3 linked regions of the Homo sapiens genome follow. The protein of the gene in region 1 interacts with the protein of each later gene in a biochemical or structural test. Each region holds a gene or a part of one and is shown in the gene's direction. Other genes may lie near its edges. The genes, in order: RHEB, RPS6KB1 and RAF1.

Region 1 (3,750 bases):
GTGTGTTTTCTTTTGTTATATGCCTTTTACCTCAGTAACTCATAGTTTAATGAGCATTCTCAAATCTCAAACATGAGTGTGAGAAGAGTGGTGTTTTGTTTTTTAGAAACCTATATGCTGAATACACAAATATTTATGAATATACAAGAAATATGTCAGTAAAACTTTCTGAATCAACCAGTTTGTTGATCAGAATTGTCTAATCCTTTTTATTGAATTTAACCTCTATCTAAATAATAACCATTTTCATTGTTTGTGAAATAAAACAGAAGTCTCACATTATTCCTTTATATCATAAAACCCCTGTAGAATTGCTCTTTCTGAGTAAATAAAGCGAAAATACATCCTATTTCATAATTTCTAGAAATGGAAAAAAGAAACCTGCAGTTGAGAGATGTGAGATTTGGGTTTTCATTTATCCCCACTAACAACTTTGGACAAGTTACTTCACCGTACCTTTGTCGCCTGTAAATTGGGTATATTGATATAGGAGTAGATCTCTCCTATCTGAGGCAGCCGGGTTACTTACTTTAAAACATTAGTTAAGGGCCAGGCGCAGTGGCCCACACCTGTAATCCCAATACTTTGGGAGGCCGAAGTGGGCAGATCATTTGAGGTCAGGAGTTCGAGACCAGCCTGGCCAACATGGTGAAACCTCATCTCTACTAAAAATACAAAAATTACCCGGGTGTGGTGGCGGGTGCCTGTAATCCCAGCTGCTCGGGAGGCTGAGGCAGGAGAATCTCTTGAACCTGGGAGGCGGAGACTGTATCATGAGCTGAAATCATGCCATTGCACTTCAGCCTGAGCGACAAAGCAAGGCTGTGTCTCAAAAAAAAAACAAAAAAACAACACTGGTTAAAGGGAAAAAAAATCGGAAAGGTGATGTCAATCTCCAGTGTTTTGTTTTAAAGCATAAATATACATTCAGTCACTCATCTTGTGAAATTTTCAAATTGTCATCTTTGAATATGAGTTCACCCACTGCTGTTCAGTATGACTACATCCACGATTTGTCCATTATGACTTCTGGTTCGGTTTCTTCCGAGTGAGATGCTTGGGAAACAGTCTACACCTCAACTATTTAGATTGCTGTGATTTTCCCCACCAGTCTTTTTCAGTTGGTTTGGCACACCTTATTAAGGAGCACCGTTTTTAGTAGATCAACTCACAGTATTCAACTTCTAGTTTTCAGACAAACAAAACTCTGTCTACACATACTTCAAAAGTTTGCAACATAAATTATGACTATGATGAATTTAACTGGCATAAGTGGGTTTGGGAACAAATGGGGCTGTTTTAAATAATGCCTTTTTTTTCTAGTAGCTCGTAGTTTAATCAGCATTCTCAAATTTGAGACATGAGGGAGTATGAGAAGAGTGGTGTTTTGTTTTTTAGAAATCTGTATGCTGAATACACAAATATTTATGAATATCCAAGAAATACGTCAGTAAAACTTTCCGAATCAACCAGTTTGATTCAGAAAATCAGTGATCTCAAGAAATTTAGCCACTTAGAACAGTACACATTTATGATCTCACAGTTTTTGTGGGTCAGGAATCTGGGTGTGGCCTAGCTGTGTCCTCTGCTTCAGTCTCTCAGAGCCACAGTGTGGGTATCAGCAGGGGCTGCAGTCCCATCTGAAGGCTTGCCTGGGGGAAGATGTTTCCCAGCGTGTTCACGTGGCTCTTGACAGGGTTGAGTTTCTTGCAAGTTGTTGGACTGAGCTTCTTAGTTCCTTGCTGGCCGCTGGCCTGAGGCTGCCCTCTGCTCCTTGCCAGGTGCTTCACTTCATTGGGGCAGGTGCACAAGAGAGCCAGGGAATTTCCTGCATGACAAGCCACTGTCTTTTATAACCTAACCGCAAAAGGGACATTCCATCACCTTTGCCATATTCTGTTCATTAGACGCACGTCACTAGGTCCATGCAGGGAGATGACACACAGTGTGGCCACTAGGAGAGCAGGAGATCTGGGAGCCGGCTCCAAGCTGCCTGCCACACAGTCCTAGTTCTTTCAGCTGTTTCTCACGTGACAGGGTACTGTATTTTTGCCCAAGTGGCGACACTTTTAAAGATAGGCAAATACAGCATGCGGAGGAAACCGTGGTTCTGTAATGCAACCGCAGGTCCTTAGGACACCCATATCCCATTTGTTGACCCACAGCGAGCTTGTAGGGGGGTTAAATTTCATTTTTGTTTTTATCAAATGACAGCACACATCGTTTAAAATAGCACAGTGTGTAATTCATTCAACAAGCTAACTTATTCTGAAGCTTGTGATGCAATCATGAACAAAGCAGACAAATCCCTGCCCTTGCGGACCTATTATTTCTGGTGTGGGAGACAAACAGTAAAACGACACACATGCGAGATAGGATGTCTGTGACCATGCTGCCAAGAAAAATAAAGTACGGAAGGGGTAAGAAATGGAAAGGAAATTTGTCATTTAGGGTAAACAGAAGAGGTGTAAGAAGTGACATTTGAGGCTGGGTGTGGTGGCTCACGCCTGTAATCCCAGCACTTTGGGAGGCCGAGGCAGGCGGATCACGAGGTCAGAAGTTTGCGGCTTGAGAGTCACTGGGGCCGAGTAAAGATGGCCACCCATCAGAGGATGTTGAACCAGGCACCGTCCATCTGCTGCAGCAGAGTCCTCTGGTTGCTGTGCTGAGCAGGGGTGGCGGGGAAGGGTTGGGGCTGTGGAACTGATGCAGGCAGACTTGGGCCAGGAATTCACACCTCAGCGGCAGCAGTGGAGGGGAGTGAGAAGCCGTCAGATTCTAGGTAGGATTTGAAAGTAGAGCCAGTGATGTGCTGGCAGATGTTTGCATGGGTTTTTTGGGGGAGGGTGGAAAATGATTTGTGGCCATTTGCCAGCAGTCAGTGGTATAAATAATCCTGCTGTGGCAGATTTCAAGTGATCATTATGACATCTCAGATCCCCTTCCCGGTGAGAGCCACCTCCATCCTAGAGTCATCGGCTCATTGATCTGATTGAAAGCCAAGAGATACTGGCATCACCCAGAGAATGTATGTACCTAGGAAAGAACACAGGAGCAGGCTGAATGTACTAGGGCACTCTAGGAAAAGCTGTTCAAGTTGTAATGTAAACAGTTGGTTCTTTGCTGAATGAGTTGGGTGATTAAAATTTGCATTTATGTGGTTTCTCAGCCCAGTGGTAGGCTTTCCGTTTGAATGCCTTACCTGTTTCACTTTGAATATCCTCAGTCAGGGTTGCTGAGTGTCAGATGTATGCACATGTGAATGGATTGCTAGGAAAAAACAGGAGTTCTTTGTGTTCATTTTATGTTATGTTAAAATGGTGAGTCTGTGACATTTTACATTTTTCCAGCTGGCAACATAACATACATTTAAAAACTTCAACATTAAAATGGATGTCTAATTTATACTTTTTGTTTTATAGTTTTGAAGTGATTAAAGTTATCCATGGCAAATTGTTGGATATGGTGGGGAAAGTACAGTAAGTAGTACCATTTTATCTGCTTGTTAGAGAAACTTCTTTTAATAGTATCTTCTGAGCAATACAATCTGGCACTTACTGGTTTGTCTTTTTTTTCTTACAAATAGAATACCTATTATGTTGGTTGGGAATAAGAAAGACCTGCATATGGAAAGGTATGTAGCTTTTATAAAGTCAAATCTAAGATGATTTAGTCACTGAAGTATCATTTTAATTATTGTTCTGATGTCAAGAATATTTTTAGCTGTAGCATTTTTATCCGTTCAGAGGT
Region 2 (3,750 bases), on another chromosome or scaffold:
TTGATTCAGCCCTTTATTCTTTTGAGGTAGATAAATTTGGGTGTCACACAGTTTATAGTTGTGGGCTGGCTGGCAGGTGGGAGGGCAGATACTGTGGGCCTCAGCTGTCTATAAATATGTAGCTGTATTAAGTAAGGGATGAGTGGGCTTCTAAGGGTCAGGTTATAAGATACCTTTTGAAATCAAGATGTGATCTCTGAGAATAACAAAGTTCCTATTTCCTATGGGATTTTAAAGTTGGGTGTGGATGGGAGAAATTTGCTTGAAATGAATGGCTATTAGCTTAATTCCTACACAGACAGAACAAAACATGACCAATGGCAGTTTAGCATATTCTGGACATCTTTGCAATTTTAGCAATATATTCTAATGGCAAAATAAAGCACTTTATAGTTTCACTAAAATGAGTGAAACATAAATGTCCCCATGCCTTTTGGCAGCATCCTATGCCATCTCTTTTTCCAATACATCCCCCTACCCCACTAATTTGGTCTTTGGTGCATGTCTGTTTCTTTCAAGGAATTTTGCTCCATACGTAAACTGCTTTGGATAGATTACACTCTTTTTAATTTTATTAAATCACTTTTGTTTCCAGCTTTTACTTGGCAGAAATCTCCATGGCTTTGGGGCATTTACATCAAAAGGGGATCATCTACAGAGACCTGAAGCCGGAGAATATCATGCTTAATCACCAAGGTGGAGACATACCGTAAACAATTCTATAGTAAATAATCATCTTAAAATCCTCCCACATAGGTCGTGGCCATTTTCAAAGCCCCAAATTCATCTCTCTATTTTGTATATTTCCTCCCTCAGAATTCATGGCATCATAGTACTTGCTGATATTTTAAGTCTTTAGGTAATTACGCTTGGTGAGAGTAAAAGAAGTTGAGGATAATAGTCGCTCAACTGCCTTTTTTAGTTTAATCCTTACTCTTTATAGTTTTTCATGTTTTTGGAATCTTTACATCAAATGTTGTATAATGTTTTAGACTGTAAAAGCCAGTCTAAACATTAATTTTGGCTTGTTACTTAAATTGAAAAGTGAATCTCAATTATATAAGTTGAGTTTTAATAATGAAAATATGTAAATATTGGCTGGGCACAGTGGCTGACACCTGTAATCCCAGCACTTTGGGAGGCTAAGGTGGGTGGATCACCTGAGGTCAGGAGTTCAAGACGCCTGGCCAACATGGTGAAACCCCATCTCTACAAAAATACAAAAAAAAAAAAAAATTAGCTGGGCATGATGGTGGGTGCCTGTAATCCCAGCTACTCAGGAGGCTGAGGTGGGAGAATCGCCTGAACCCAGGAGGCGAAAGTTGCAGTGAGCCAAGATCGCGACATTATACTCCAGCCTGAGTGAAAAGAGCGAGACTCCGTCTCAAAAAAAAAGAAAATATGTGAATATTAGAAGCTATGCTTCTTACAGTAGGTTTTATTAATGCTGGGAAAAGGATTGAAATTGAACCAAAGTATTTGATAAAACTTTGGAAATATGATGTTTAGTAGGCATCAGGTTACTTTTTTTTTTTTTTTTTTGAGATGGGGGTCTCACTCTGTCATCCAGGCTAGAGTATGGTGGCATGATTACAGCTCACTGCAACCTCCGCCTCCCAGGCTCAAGTGATCCTTCCACCCCGGCCCCTCAAGTAGCTGGGGCCACTGTGGCACACCACCACGCCTGACTAATTTTTGGTATTTTTTGTAGAAATGGGGTTTCATCATGTTGCCCAGGGTGGTCTCAAACTCCTGAGCTCAATTGATCTGCCTGCCTTGGCCTCCCAAATTGCTGGGATTACAGGCATAACCCACCTTCCCCCCAGCCAGAATCAGTTTATTCTTGCTGTTTGTTTGTAACAACAAACATAAACATCAGAGAGACTGATAATCTATACAACTATAGATATAGCACAGTGAGCCTTGACTACAACTGCATGCTGCTAAAGACAGCTCAATTTATGCTAATCTGGGCTGTAGGTAGACTTGGCAATTCACTCGTACCCCAAAGGAGCAACCAGCTGACCCAGGGTATCTAGAAGGTGGTAGCAGCTGCTAATCCTTAGATGTCTACAGAATAATCCATGAGGTAGTTAATTGTTTCAAACTCTTAGAAAATGATGTATGAACAACTGAGGCTCATATAAACATTCCAGATTATACTCCTCCACCCACCTTTTTTTTTTTTTTAAGGAGAAATGATATACTTAACTGAATATATCATGGGAATCAGTGTCTCTTCCTTCCTCTCATCAACACCTCCTCACTCCCCAAAACGTGGATTCTGATCTGAATTATAAGTCACAGGATAGAATAGGGGAGCGATAGAATAGTTAACTTCTTTGATTTATAAGGTTGAGTGTATCAGATGGTTCTGTGAAAATAAAGGCCATACTTCTTCTGTATCAGAGTGTAGTATATATTTACATTTGAATCAATAGGTCATTGTGCCTTTTCTGTGAAATGAACCTCAAATACTAGAGTCCCTGAGATTGTTGAACCACTTGTTATGACAGTCCAGTAAAGAAAGCTAAACTTGAACTGAAATGATCTTTGTGTAAGGTGGTAAGTTTTTTACTTTCTGGATCAGTGATGATTGATTCATACTATCTAGCAATTTTCTTTCTTTCCCCTAATTGGTAGCATTGGGCAGAATGAGCTACCTTGTTATAATGAGTTTCTGAGACCATTTTAAGGACTCTTCACAGTTCACTGTGATAAAAGCTATATATTTGAAGTACTGTCTCACACCTTTGTTCAAAAGGTACAGAGTATGTTTATTGGGGTCTGTGTACGTAAACTAGACTTCATAAAACAGTTTTCCCAGGATTTTTCTTTTTCAGGATGGTAGAGAATTTTGTATATACTTAAAGCTAGAGCCTTAAACAGGTTATTTCACTTTTTTCTCTATCTTTATTTTCTCTTTACTAGATAGATTGTATCATTGGCAAAAGGTGACTTTGCCCTAGCCTTAAACAGTTAGCATCCCATTTTATGGATGGTACCTTGTTCTTGACATCTGCAAGAAAATTTGAGGCAAGAAAAGTTAAATGGAAGGATAGATTAAAGTATTATGTGACATGTTCAAACACTGCACATACTTATAATTCGGAGAATAATCATGCTGTAATCTTTCATTGTAGGTCATGTGAAACTAACAGACTTTGGACTATGCAAAGAATCTATTCATGATGGAACAGTCACACACACATTTTGTGGAACAATAGAATACATGTGAGCTACATGTTAAACATAATTGGTTTGGGGGTAATAGCTAATTTTACCTGTTTTAAGGAATAGTATCTGTTTTCTGTACCCTCATTGACTCTGTATATTGTTTTTAAAATTCTAATTCAGATGATATGCAAATGGGTGAATTTTTAAGCATATTATTTTCCTCATTGTAGGGCCCCTGAAATCTTGATGAGAAGTGGCCACAATCGTGCTGTGGATTGGTGGAGTTTGGGAGCATTAATGTATGACATGCTGACTGGAGCAGTAGGTGCACAGTTAAAAGCTGCATGTATTATTGGTCTGTGCTGAGTCACTATAGCAAGAGACCTGTCCTGTGCTTTCTGAACATGTTACCAGTGGAGTTTTCAAAGCCCAAAGATTTGTTATTAGCAGTTTAACACTAATAATGCTGTATGATTATATGGGATCCCATACTTTCCGAAACATTTTCTTTTAAATGATCTATGTCATGGCAGGCCTGTGAAATAGATGTTGAATAGATAATGCCCTTATTTT
Region 3 (3,750 bases), on another chromosome or scaffold:
TATTTATATTTTCTTTTAATCTCCCATTACTAGATGGCAGGGATTTTGATTACTGTTAATTTTCCAATATCCAAAATAATGTGTGGTACCTAATAGGCTCTCAATATCGAAAAGTAATAGTGCACATGGCATTCTGTAGTATTAGGTAGGTATCTTGTGTTCCTGTGTTTGCGTAAATAAGATCATACATTATGTTCTGCTTTTTTAACTTAATGGCTTTTTTTTTCCTTTTTTTGCGACAGAGTCTGGCTCTGTCACCTAGGCTGGAGTGCAGTGGCGCTATCTCGGCTCACTGCAACCTCTGCCTACTGGGTTCAAGTGATTCTCCTGCCTCAGCCTCCTGAGTAGCTGGGATTACAGACGCGCACCACCACACCTGGCCAATTTTTTTTTTTTTTTTTTTAGGCGGAGTCTCACTCTGTTGTCCAGGCTGGAGTGCAGTGGCGCGATCTCAGCTCACTGCAAGCTCCGCCTCCCGGGTTCATGCCATTCTCCTGCCTCAGCCTCCTGAGTAGCTGGGACTACAGGGGCCCGCCACCACACCCGGCTAATCTTTTGTATTTTTAGTAGAGACGGGGTTTTACTGTGTTAGCCAGGATGGTCTCGATCTCCTGACTTCGTGATCTGCCCGCCTCGGCCTCCCAAAGTGCTGGGATTACATGTGTGAGCCACCGCACCCGGCCTATTTGTTTTGTATTTTTTAGCAGAGACAGGTTTCACCATGTTGGCCAGGCTGGTCTCAAACTCATGACCTCAAGTGATCTGCCCGCCTCGGCCTCCCAAAGTGCTGGGATTACAGGCGTGAGCCACCACGCCCAGCCATGTCTTTTTTTTTTTTTTTTTTGAGACAAGAGTTTCGCTCTTGTTGCCCAGGCTGGAGTGCAATGACGCGATTTCGGCTCACCGCAATCTCCGCCTCCTGGGTACAAGCAATTCTCCTGCCTTAGCCTCCCGAGTAGATGGGATGACAGGCATGCACCACCATGCCCAGCTAATTTGGTATTTTTATTTTTTTATATTTATTTATTTTTTCGAGACGGAGTCTCGCTCTGTCGCCCAGGCTGGAGTGTAATGGTGCGATCTGGGCTCACTGCAACCTCTGCCTCCCGGGTTCAAGCGATTCTCCTGTCTCAGCCTCCTGAGTAGCTGGGATTACAGGCGCCCGCCACCACGCCCGGCTAATTTTTGTATTTTTAGTAGAGACGGGGTTTCTCCATGTTGGTCAGGCTGGTCTCGAACTCCCGACCTCAGGTGATCCGCCTGCCTCGGCCTTCCAAAGTGCTGGGATTACAGGAGTAATCCCAAAAAAAGCGCCGGGCCCTTTTTTTGTTGTTTTTTAAATTCAGTAACTATCTAGTTCATTCTTGGATGGATGACAACCCAGATTGGATGTGTAGCAGCGTTCTCTTAACCAGTTTCCTATTAATCTTCATTTCATCCCCAGTGTTTCTCCAGAATGCAAATAATATGGCATTAAATATCTTCACACATAGCTTTTTGTGTATGTGTATACTTATTTCTCTAGAATTAGTGTCTAGAAGTGAAACTGCCGGGAGGAAGGATATATACTTTTAACATGTCCAAGTTCCACTGTGATAGCGCTGCGAGGGCACACAACAGGTTTCAATATACCTTGGACCAAACCGGATATTATCAGTTTTTTTAACTTGTTGCTAATGTGATGGGGGAAAAATGAACTCGGAATTTACACACAAGGAAAAGACCGTTTAAGGTTCAGGGACTGTCCACATAGCTGTCAAGTGGCGGAGCCGTGATTTGGTATTAAAGTGCCCGGAGAGGACGCGTCAAAGTTGGACACTGTGCCCTGTGTCCTGAGGCACGTCTGGTGATCGCTGGGCCTTGCAATGCTGGGCAGGCAGGCCTTCCTCTCCCCTTCTAGGCCTCTGGCCACTCCTGGCTGGCCGAAAGCCGGTTCTTCTCGATTACCGAGTGCCTCTCCTGAAAGCAAGTCAGCGTCGCCTAACCTCTTCAGCTTCGAAATGGCGGCCACCAGATCGCTAGGCCACGCCCCGGGGGCGGGGCCTGAGTTCAGGCCAGAGCGATGGATGCCCGAGCCAAGTTAGAAGTCGACTGCCAGTAGGGCTCGCGCAGAATCGGAGAGCCGGTGGCGTCGCAGGTCGGGAGGACGAGCACCGAGTCGAGGGCTCGCTCGTCTGGGCCGCCCGAGAGTCTTAATCGCGGGCGCTTGGGCCGCCATCTTAGATGGCGGGAGTAAGAGGAAAACGATTGTGAGGCGGGAACGGCTTTCTGCTGCCTTTTTTGGGCCCCGAAAAGGGTCAGCTGGCCGGGCTTTGGGGCGCGTGCCCTGAGGCGCGGAGCGCGTTTGCTACGATGCGGGGGCTGCTCGGGGCTCCGTCCCCTGGGCTGGGGACGCGCCGAATGTGACCGCCTCCCGCTCCCTCACCCGCCGCGGGGAGGAGGAGCGGGCGAGAAGCTGCCGCCGAACGACAGGACGTTGGGGCGGCCTGGCTCCCTCAGGTAGGTGGCAGGACCGGGTCGTGGATGCCGGGGGAGCCGGGCGGCGGGGCTGAGGGATCGGCTTCCAGGGCGACCGGGCCTGGGTGGCGCTGATGGAGCGGCCCCGCGGCTGCCGGGCAGAGGGCTTGGGCCAGGCCGTTGTCACCCTGGGGTAGCGTTGGGCGGGGGCCCCGGAGTCCGGTGTCATGGCCGGCGAGCCGAGTTCCCACATCCCACTCAAATTTCCTTGTGTTTGGCGGAAACGTGCCAACGCCACCCTTATGCCATGCGCATTCCTCATATTTGGCAGTGGGAAAATCCGCCCAGAGCTGCCCCATATCTGTTGTCACTTGGATGGGCCAATTCCTTTTCTCTTGGGCCGCCGAATGTGGGACCCGGGCTTGCACCCTTTCTCAGGGTACTTCAGTCAAGTGACACCCTTTTAGAGACGACGTGAGGAATCGGGTAAGAGAGGAGGAAACTGGCCAGTGCCCTACCACAAAGGCACAGGGGCCTCTTCTTGGGTATCAGGACTAGCCTTGGGTATCAGGACTCTGGGTTATTAATGAAAGGTTTGGGATACTTATAGAGGATTGGCCTCAGGACGCTTTGGAATGAAGAGCCAGGGCTGTCTTTTGTGTGACGCGAGAGCCGCCGGGACGCTTCAGCTCTGCAGCTGCTGAGGCTCTGCGAGCGAGTCGATGCCCAAGAGAGAGGGGTTTGGACGTCGTGAGAGGCGAGGCGGCCGTGTTCATTCATTGTTCTCGTTCTAGGGCTCTGGGTGTGCCCCTGGTATTCATTCTGTGGTGGGAAGAAGGAATGGAACTTAGTGTATCCTTGAGATGTGAACGGGTTCTAGGGGGTCACTTAATCTAAGTGGAAAATGAATTCAAGGCACGTTCATTGAGCGTTTCTGCTTGCCTGGTCCTCTGTGGGCTGAGTGGAGAGACTCTGCCCTCCCTGCGCTCCTAAGGCGTGAAAACAATGCAGTGTGATAAGAATTGGCTTATCAAGTGTTATGGGGATTTAGAACAGTTAGTTTTGCTTGGGGAGGAGTTGAGGAAGCTTCTACACTCGAGGAGACTTCTGAGTCGAGTTTTGAAACACCTGTGAGTAAGTGCTCATCGGGTGAGGAGGAGCTCAGGGAACAGCTGGTACAAAGGCTTAGAGCCATGTGGGAGTTGGGATGAGTTTGGGGAGCAGCAAATTGCCTGGGGTGCAGGAAGGAAATGGTGAGAGATGAGAGTAAAATAAAAGTTGCTAGAATTGTGA

The links.
Region 2: of the proteins of RHEB (region 1) and RPS6KB1, one has a biochemical effect on the other in vitro, tested with the Homo sapiens proteins (one study listed by BioGRID).
Region 3: the proteins of RHEB (region 1) and RAF1 form a complex in vitro, tested with the Homo sapiens proteins (3 studies listed by BioGRID and IntAct).

Annotation. Positions count from the first base shown.
Region 1 is NC_000007.14:151,471,278-151,475,027, reverse strand, and holds part of RHEB (GTP-binding protein Rheb), read left to right. Parts: intron 1-3,422; coding exon 3,423-3,479; intron 3,480-3,586; coding exon 3,587-3,634; intron 3,635-3,750. UniProt on the Homo sapiens protein: Small GTPase that acts as an allosteric activator of the canonical mTORC1 complex, an evolutionarily conserved central nutrient sensor that stimulates anabolic reactions and macromolecule biosynthesis to promote cellular biomass generation and growth.
Region 2 is NC_000017.11:59,931,027-59,934,776, forward strand, and holds part of RPS6KB1 (ribosomal protein S6 kinase beta-1), read left to right. Parts: exon of another isoform or gene 1-26; intron 27-595; coding exon 596-696; intron 697-3,143; coding exon 3,144-3,234; intron 3,235-3,407; coding exon 3,408-3,498; exon of another isoform or gene 3,499-3,502; intron 3,503-3,750. UniProt on the Homo sapiens protein: Serine/threonine-protein kinase that acts downstream of mTOR signaling in response to growth factors and nutrients to promote cell proliferation, cell growth and cell cycle progression.
Region 3 is NC_000003.12:12,662,562-12,666,311, reverse strand, and holds the start of RAF1 (RAF proto-oncogene serine/threonine-protein kinase), read left to right. Parts: upstream 1-2,194; 5' UTR 2,195-2,499; intron 2,500-2,803; exon of another isoform or gene 2,804-2,943; intron 2,944-3,515; exon of another isoform or gene 3,516-3,587; intron 3,588-3,750. UniProt on the Homo sapiens protein: Serine/threonine-protein kinase that acts as a regulatory link between the membrane-associated Ras GTPases and the MAPK/ERK cascade, and this critical regulatory link functions as a switch determining cell fate decisions including proliferation, differentiation, apoptosis, survival and oncogenic transformation.